3 separate regions of the Homo sapiens genome follow, and regions 1 and 2 are each linked to region 3. Evidence: fine-mapped expression QTL. A gene starts in region 3. Each other region holds a variant in brackets. All regions are shown on one strand. Distances are between the middles of the regions.

Region 1 (2,765 bases), 110 kb before region 3:
CAGAGTTTTCAAAGTTAATTTGGCGGGTAGGGGCTTGGGAAGTGGGGAGTGCTGAACGGTCAGGTTGGAGATGGATTTATAGAGGGTTGAAGTGAGTTTTTCATGCTGTTTTCTGTTGTGGGTGGGATGGCAGAACTGATTGACCCAGATTACCGGTCTGTGTGTTGTCAGCTGATCCATCCAGTGTAGGATCTCCAAAATACCTCAAGCACTGATCTTAGCTTTTACAATTGTTATGTTATCTTCAGGAGCAACTTGGCGAGGTTCAGACTCTTGGAGCCAGAAGCTACATGACCCCTAAACGGTAATTTCTAATCTTATAGCTAAACTGTTAGTCCTGCAAAGGCAGGCTGGTCCCCAGGCAAGAAGGGAGTCTTTTCAGGAAAGGGCTGTTATCAATTTTGTTTCAGAGTGAAACCATGAACTGAATTCCTTCCCTAAGTTAATTCAGCCTGTGCCCAGGAATGAACAAGGACAGCTTAAAGGTTAAAAGCAAGATGGAGTCGGTTAGGTCTGATTTCTTTCACTGTCATAATTTCCTCAGTTATAATTTTGCAAAGACGGTTTCACCTGTGTTTGACATCAGTGCGATGCGGTGGGGAGAGCAACAGGCACAGGGAGGGGCCTAGGCGATGGTCTGGAGATGGAGGCAGCTGGGAGGATGGAACCTGGGGTCCACAGGCACCTGTCGGGAACAAAGTTTGAGGCAGAGCTACTCCTGGAAGAGCACACAGGCTGAGGGCTGTGCATTCATCATGAGGACACTAGAAGCCATGGAGAGTTTTGAAGAAAGGAGGGACATGATCCAAATCCAGGCTTTTAAGATTTCCCAAAGGCCAATCAAAGGAAGAACATTGTAGAGAGAGAGGATGAGGACTTTGGGGCCTTGGGAGGTTGAATCCTTTTTGTAGCTCACATAGGTGGTAGAGATGACATTTTGCACTGAGACAAGCAGGTCAGACAACCAGCCTGAGTGCCACCTGGCTCCAGGGACAAGAAAGGGTTCAGGGAGGCCTGAGCTTATCAAATCCCGTGACATGTTTGTAATGTCTGCCTCTCCCCTCAGGCACTCCTGGCTGCAGAAGCACTTAGGGAACCCACACAGGAAAGTGGAGGGTGTTCAATCCCCTCATTGGTCCTGACGCCATCTACAGGTTCTCTAGCTTGTGGTGTCCTGGGACTCTTAAGTGCCATTTTTTTCAGTCCTTTGATCCGAGGACCCTGGAGAATCTCTGAAGCCAGGATACCAAGTCCATGACAGGTTATATGGAGGTATTCCCATTTCTGTCAACCAATGTAAACACCCTTGTAAGATTAACCCAGGATTTGCTACCAGGTTGTGAAATGCTTAGAGATAAAACGGATCAAAGTCAGGAGGTGATATTACCACAGTTCTACCTGGCTACAGGCTTCATCTGGTTGGACCTTGTTGCATAGACTGTGGGTTGAGGGAAGAGGAAGAAAGGTCAGAGATAAGGCTCCTGCCATAATCTAGGTGAGGCTTAATGGATCAGATATGTGGTAAATCACATGGGTCTGGATTCAGGATTCACTTTTTGTAAAAAGACAGCTAGGTTTTCTTTCTTTCTTTCTTTCTTT[T/C]TTTTTGAGACGCAGTTTCGGTCTTGTCACCCAGGCTGGAGTGCAATGGCATGATCTCTGCTCACTGGAACCTCCGCCTCCCGGGTTCAAGTGATTCTCTTGCCTCAGCCTTCCGAGCAGTTGGGATTCCAGGCATGAACCACCACACTTGGCTAATTTTTGTATTTTTAGTAGAGACGAGGTTTCACCATGTCGGCCAGGCTGGTCTCGAACTCCTGACCTCAGGTGATTCACCTGCCTCGGCCTCCCAAAGTGCTGGGATTACAGGCATGAGACACCGTACCTGGCAGACAGCTAGGTTTTCTCTCTCTCTCTTTTTTTTTTTTTTTTGAGACGGAGTTTGCTTTTGTTGCCCAGGCTGGAGTGCAATGGCGTGATCTCAGCTCACCGCAACTTCCGTCACCCAGGTTCAAGTGATTCTCCTGCCTCAGCCTCCCCAGTAGCTGGGATTACAGGCATGCACCACCACCCTGGCTAATTTTGTATTTTTAGTAGAGATGGGGTTTCTCCATGTTGGTTAGGCTGGTCTTGAACTCCCGACCTCAGGTGATCCGCACGCCTCAGCCTCCCAAAGTGCTGGGATTACAGGTGTGAGCCACCGTGCCCGGCCGACAGCTAGGTTTTCTAATGTGGGTGATAAGAGCATGAAAGAGGAATTGGGCATGAGCCCAAGGTTTTTGATCTTTGCAGCTGTAACCATGGACGCTGCATCTGCTGACATGAAGTTGGTATTGACAACAATATTCACTGTGGATAGCAAGAGGGTTGTTTTGGCCATATGAAGAATCAGAGACCAATAAGTGGTGGCATCAAATGGATAACTAGACATACAGGATGGGATATCTGGGAGGGTGTTGATAATGGAGACATCCAATATATGAAAGCTAATGAGCGAACTACAGTAAGTTAGTTATGGGTCCATTTAGGAGGACATGCTTCAGATTTTGGTGGTAAATCTTTTCAGGGGCCAGGAAGGTGTGACTACAGGCTGAGGAGTGGATCTCTTACTTACGTCCCTGAGTGATGTTATTGGGCTTCCTAAACACCTGAGAGGGTGTGAGTGACCATCATGGCAGGATGTATCAGACAGTAGAGTTTGGAAGGGGACATAGACATCCGAGGAGAGAATAGACGAGATAGATGCATGCAGAAGCATAGGAGTAATT
Region 2 (2,765 bases), 800 kb before region 3:
ACGACACAGAAAGAAAGCAGGGGGTGAGTACTTTTCCTTTGTAAAGTTATTAAAATAATAACCCAACCCATACATATACCATTGGCTAGCTTCCACATGTGTTTATGACTGGTGACTAGTAAAATTTGCTATGCAGCAATCAACTGTTATTTACCATTTTCCAGGAATTTCAGGGCATAACATTAGGGTTATATGCAAAATGCAGTATACTAAATATCCGTGTGATTTTGTGAATTCAAAAGCACTGCAAGATGTTGCTCATGTTATTAATATGAATAAGACGATAAACCCATCCTCATAAATGTACAACATTTCCTGGTGGCCAAGCCTTAAACAGCTTATAATGTACCCAGTATCAGTGGGTGATGTGTTAGACTGTGAATTCAGCAAGGAGTAAAGAACGATTTTTTTAAATGGCCATGTGAGTAGACAAATGGAAATTGAGAGGATTTTTTGGGTAAAAAGAGATAAGAGCCTGGTATTATATAAGGAATGGGGCAAAATTAGGCAGAGTAGGTGTGGGAAAGAAGAGAAGAGCAACCAGAAACATACGTACGAGGTTTTTAAAAATACATTATTTTTAGCATTTAAGAGGAAAAGAAGGAAAGTACTATGAAAAAAGAAATGTAGGCCGGTCACAGCGGCTCACGCCTGTAATCCCAGCACTTTAGGAGGCCAAGGCAGGCGGATCACAAGGTCAGGAAATCGAGAACATCTTGGCCAACATGGTGAAACCCCGTCTCTACTAAAAATACAAAAATGAGCCAGGCGTGGTGGTGCATGCCTGTCGTCCTAGCTACTACTTTGGAGGCTGAGGCAGGAGAATCACCTGAACCAGGGAGGCGGAGATTGCAGTGAGCTGAGATCACACCACCGTACTCCAGCCTGGGTGACAAGAGTAAAACTCTGTCTCCAAAAAAAGAAAAAGAAAAGAAAGAAACGAGGCTGAGTGCCATGGCTCATGCCTGTAATCAAAGCACTTTGGGAGCCTGAGGTGGAAGGATTGCCTGAGCCCAAGAGTTTGAGGCTGCAGTGAGCTATGACTACACCACTGCCCTCCAGCCTGGGCAACAGGTGACACCCTATCTCAAAAGGAAAAACAAAAAAGGCAAATGGCAATTGCAGTGAAGAAATGCCAAGATACCTTCATGCTCAGGAGAGAAAGCTGTACTTCCTGGATGTGGTTTCCAGTCCCCTACACCTCTAGAGAAACCTCTCCACTCATGAATTATAGAAATCATCCCTAAAAGTATAAAGTGCTGTCTTATTTGTTTATTTTATTTTATCTTATTTTTGAGATGAAATTTTGCTCTTGTTGCCCAGGCAGGAGTGCAATGGTGCAATATTGGCTCACTGCAACCTCTACCTCCCAGGTTCAAGCAATTCTCCTGCCTCAGCCTCCCGGGTAGCTGGGATTACAGGTGCCCACAACTATGCCTGGCTAATTTTTGTATTTTTGG[T/C]AGAGACAGGGTTTCACCATGTTGGTCATGCTGGTCTCGAACTCCTGACCTCAGGTGATGCGCCCACCTCAGCCTCCCAAAGTACTGGGATTACAGGCATTTGAGCCACCACGCCTGGCCAAAAGTATAGTCTTTTAAACGTTTTTAAAGATATGGATACCACTGGTCATTATTCACTGGAATAAAACTCCATCAGGGTTTTAGCACATTTGGTTTATTGCTACATCTTCAGTGTTTAAGAGTTCCTGGTACACAAAAGGCATCTAATAAATATTTATACTTAATAAACATTTGCTGAGTGAGTATGCCGAATGGGTTTTCAAAGGATACTGTGATAATAAGTCCTCGCTACCTTCAAAAATAGCCTCCAAATTAGAGGCCATTTCAACATGGAATTCTGGGGTGACAATTCCAGGCAACCATATCTTCCCATGTTTTTTTAAGTGCATGGGGCTCCTATCTGGAGTGAATTCTTTTCTGGTGCCTAACAAGGTATGACCTGTCAGCGAAGGCTTTACCGCATTCAGAACATCCATAAGGTTTTTGTCCAGTATGGGTTTTTTTATGCAAACTAAGGTTTAATTTCCGGATGAAGGTTTTTCCACATTCACTACATCTATAGGTCCTCTCTCCGCTATGAGTTTTCTGATGGCTATGAAGGTTTGACTTCTGAAAGAAGGCTTTTCCACATCTGTTACATTCATAGGGCTTTTCCCCAGTATGGATTTTTTTATGTTGAATGAGGTTTTTCTTCTGGATAAAGGTATTTCCACATAGATCACACTCATAAGCTCTCTTCCCAGTGTGAATTTTCTCATGATCGATGACATTGGATTTCTGGGAAAAGGCCTTCTCACATATGCTACATTTATAGGGTTTCTCTCCCGTGTGTATTCTCTGGTGTTTCACAAGATCTGACTTGTAAATGAAAGCCTTTCCACAGTCCGTACATTGAAAGGGTTTTTGTCCAGTGTGAACTTTTTTATGTTGAATGAGGGTTGAGTTCTGCCTGAAGGATTTCTCACATTCATTACACTGATAGGATTTCTTGGCATTATGAATTTTCTCATGATTAATGCAGGATGATTTCCAGGAAAAGGCTTTTCCACATGTCTTACACTGATAGGGTTTCTCTTTAGTATGCATTTTCTGATGTTGAAAGAGATTTGACTTCTGCTTGTAGGCATTTCCACAGTTCTCACATTTATAGGGCCTTTCCTCTGCGTGAGTTTTCTGATGTTTATCAAGCTTCCACTTCTCCCCGAATGCTCTTCCACAGCTATGACATTCAAAGGGTTTTTGACA
Region 3 (2,765 bases):
ATGGCTCACCGCAACCTCTGCCTCCCGAGTTCAAGCAATTCTCCTGCCTTAGCCTCTGAGTAGCTGGGATTACAGTCATGCGGCATCACCACGCCTGGCTAATTTTGTATTTTTGTTAGAGACGGGGTTTCTCCATGTTGGTCAGGCTGGTCTCGAACTCCCGACCTCAGGTGATCCGCCCGCCTCGGCCTCCCAAAGTGCTGGGATTACAGGTGGGAGCCACCTTGCCCGACCCCCTCAGTGGGTTCTTTACGTGCTTTTGTAGCCAGGAGTGTCTGAGGGGAAAGCAGACGTTACAAAGGGGATCTGATAAGCTCAGGTCTCCTTGAACCTTTTCTTATCGCTGGAGCCAGGTGACCTCAGACTGGTTGACCTGCGTGTCTCAGTGCAAAATGTCATCTCTACCACCTATGTGATCTATCAACAAAGGAGTCAACCTCCCAGAACCCTAAGGTCCTCATCTCCTCTACTATGTTCTTCCTTTGGCCTTTGGGAAACCTTAAAAGCCTGGACTTGGATCGCATCCCTCCTTTCTTCGAAACTCTCCATGGCTTCTAGCGTCTTCACAGCGAATACACAGCCCCCAGCCTGCTCTTCCAGGAGAAGCTTCGCCTCACACGTTGTTCCCTACAGGCGCCTGTGGACCCCAGGTTCCATCCTCCCGGGTCTGTCCTCCAGGCCATAGCCCGCGCCGGTCCCTGTGCCTGTCGCTCTCCCCACCGCATCCCACAGGTGTCAGAAACAAGGACCTCTCCCGCGAACGCCTCAGTGTCCCGACGCCGGGTCCGGGCTGCAGACCTGTGAACAGTCGCCGCTCTCTCGCTGCTTCAGGATTCGGGTTAGGATGAGGTGACCTGAGGGCAGGGAAGGCACAATTACCTGAGCCGGGAGCCTCAGCGCGGCCGCCGCCATCCCGAGTACGCGGGGAAAGCACTGCCGGGAGCGGCGGGCGCCGTTACGGGGCCTAAGATCTGCCTCTGTGCAGCAAGAAGGACTCTTCACCTTCTGGGTTCAGACACCGCGGTTCGGACCCATAGCTCCAGCGCCTCTCACCTCACAAACCGCAGAAACACACCCAACATTAACCAAAATGGTCGCTACCAGAGAACGCTGAGAATCCCGCCACTACGTTACGTGCGCACACAGAAACGCCTTTATTCTGAGCCCTTACTGGTTCTGTTGCGCTGTCATTCAATGTAGAGCTTTCTGGGTAATGTAGTTCCCCAGGTTCCAAGGTAGTAAAGCTGCCGCTTCCCAAAGGCGCTTCTGCAGGGAAGTCCCAGCCCTACCTCAGGGGGTTCATTAAAGCGCGTACCCTTTTAGGGCAGAGGATGGTCTCGCCCCTCCTTAGAGGCCATATTGAGATTCCTGGGGAATCCCTGTTTGTAACTGACCACCTAAGTGTTTGCAAAAATATTAATTCACATTTCTGTAAATTCAAGCTCCCAGGCGCTAAAAATACTGTGAAGGCCCCCAAAGGCTACAAATCCAAATTCGTGTATCACTTTATACAATCGTTTAGACACAGAATGCTTGCACTGGAAGCAGAGGCTGATAAACATTACTCTGTTATAATTCACATGAATGCACTCTTGTTACCGGATAGAATGTCTTGGCTGTGAGTTGTCCAGTTGTTGGCGCATTGAACAAAGAAGTGAACAAAACACACAAAAAAAGCAACGAAAGAACGGACCAATGAAAGCGCAGATTTATTGAGGGGAAAGTACACTCCACAGAAGTGGAATGTAGGTGTGGGAGCAGGCGACCAAGCGGCTCAAGAACCCCGATTACAATGTTTTTTAGGGTTTTATTAGGTTGGTGCAAAAGTAATTGCGGTTTTTGCCATGAATAAGCTAGAATTTTATAATACCCCAAGAGTTCTTTAAAGGCCTCCAATCCTATGAAGGACTGGTGCACAACCAATCAGAGGCTGAAGTGGAGACTTCTGTCTTGTTACCACAGGAGTGAGGACGTGGCCTGTGTGCTGCCTCATCTTGCCTAGAACTAGCTGCACCTGCTGTTCTTTTGCTTATGCCTTCATTCTTGGTTACCCTAATTCCCTATTCTCCTGCCTCACTCTGAGGCATTAGAGTTGGTTTTTCAGTCTGCCAGGGACAAAAGAGAACTAATCCAGATAGGACCATGCCAAGGAAGATAGAGGAGAGGCTAAAGAAAGAGTACAAAGGTCAATCAGTCGTTCCCATGGAAAAACAACTCTCCTGCTTATATAGTCAATTATTGTGTCCAATTCATTCAGCAAAACATTTATTCATGTAATATCCCTTACTTGGTATTCTAACTTATATTTTCAACTCATTTTAGGAACTTGAAGTCAGTCTCAGGTAAAGAACAATGAAAGAGAAATCTCAGCTTGGTATTGGTAATGGTGGTGATAATCTCCACCTGGAGACACTAGGCGTATGTTAAATTATCGAGCTTGTTATCTTTCCTGGGAAGTGATTATCATTTGTTTCTCTTGTGACAGCGGGGAGTGTTCTGCATGAGGAACTAATATGATACCAGAAAAACAGGTGAAATGCCAGTTACAGAAACTTATTACCAACGACTATCTAATAACTGCGATGACAGAAATAGGTCAATTGAAACATGAGTGGATGGTGAAAAAAATTTACACTTCACAGAAGTTTTTCTTTCTTTTTTTTTTTTTTTTTTTTTGAGACAAAGTCTCGTTCTGTCCCAGACTGGAGTGCAGTGGCGCCATCTTGGCTCACTGCAACCTCCACCTCCCGGGTTCAAGCGATTCT

What was found.
Region 1: its variant is fine-mapped to the expression of ZNF418 in whole blood (TOPMed, PIP above 0.99).
Region 2: its variant is fine-mapped to the expression of ZNF418 in cerebral cortex (GTEx, PIP 0.94).

The regions. Positions count from the first base shown.
Region 1 is chr19:57,820,246-57,823,010 of GRCh38, forward strand. No RefSeq gene overlaps it. Among named protein-coding and RNA genes, the nearest start is that of ZNF552, 6.7 kb to the left of the region's middle. RefSeq lists an enhancer at 1,920-2,420. The variant T/C (reference allele first, on the strand shown) is at 1,600.
Region 2 is chr19:57,133,002-57,135,766 of GRCh38, forward strand. It overlaps ZIM3 (zinc finger imprinted 3), which reads right to left. Exons shown (of 5, transcript NM_052882.1): 5 at 1,095-2,765. The coding sequence ends at 1,917. It overlaps LOC124904804 (small nucleolar RNA U3), which reads right to left and starts at 1,259; the gene lies at 1,048-1,259. The variant T/C (reference allele first, on the strand shown) is at 1,461.
Region 3 is chr19:57,934,282-57,937,046 of GRCh38, forward strand. ZNF418 (zinc finger protein 418) reads right to left here and starts at 1,121. Exons shown (of 6, transcript NM_133460.3): 1 at 880-1,121. RefSeq lists enhancers at 524-1,406, 999-1,088.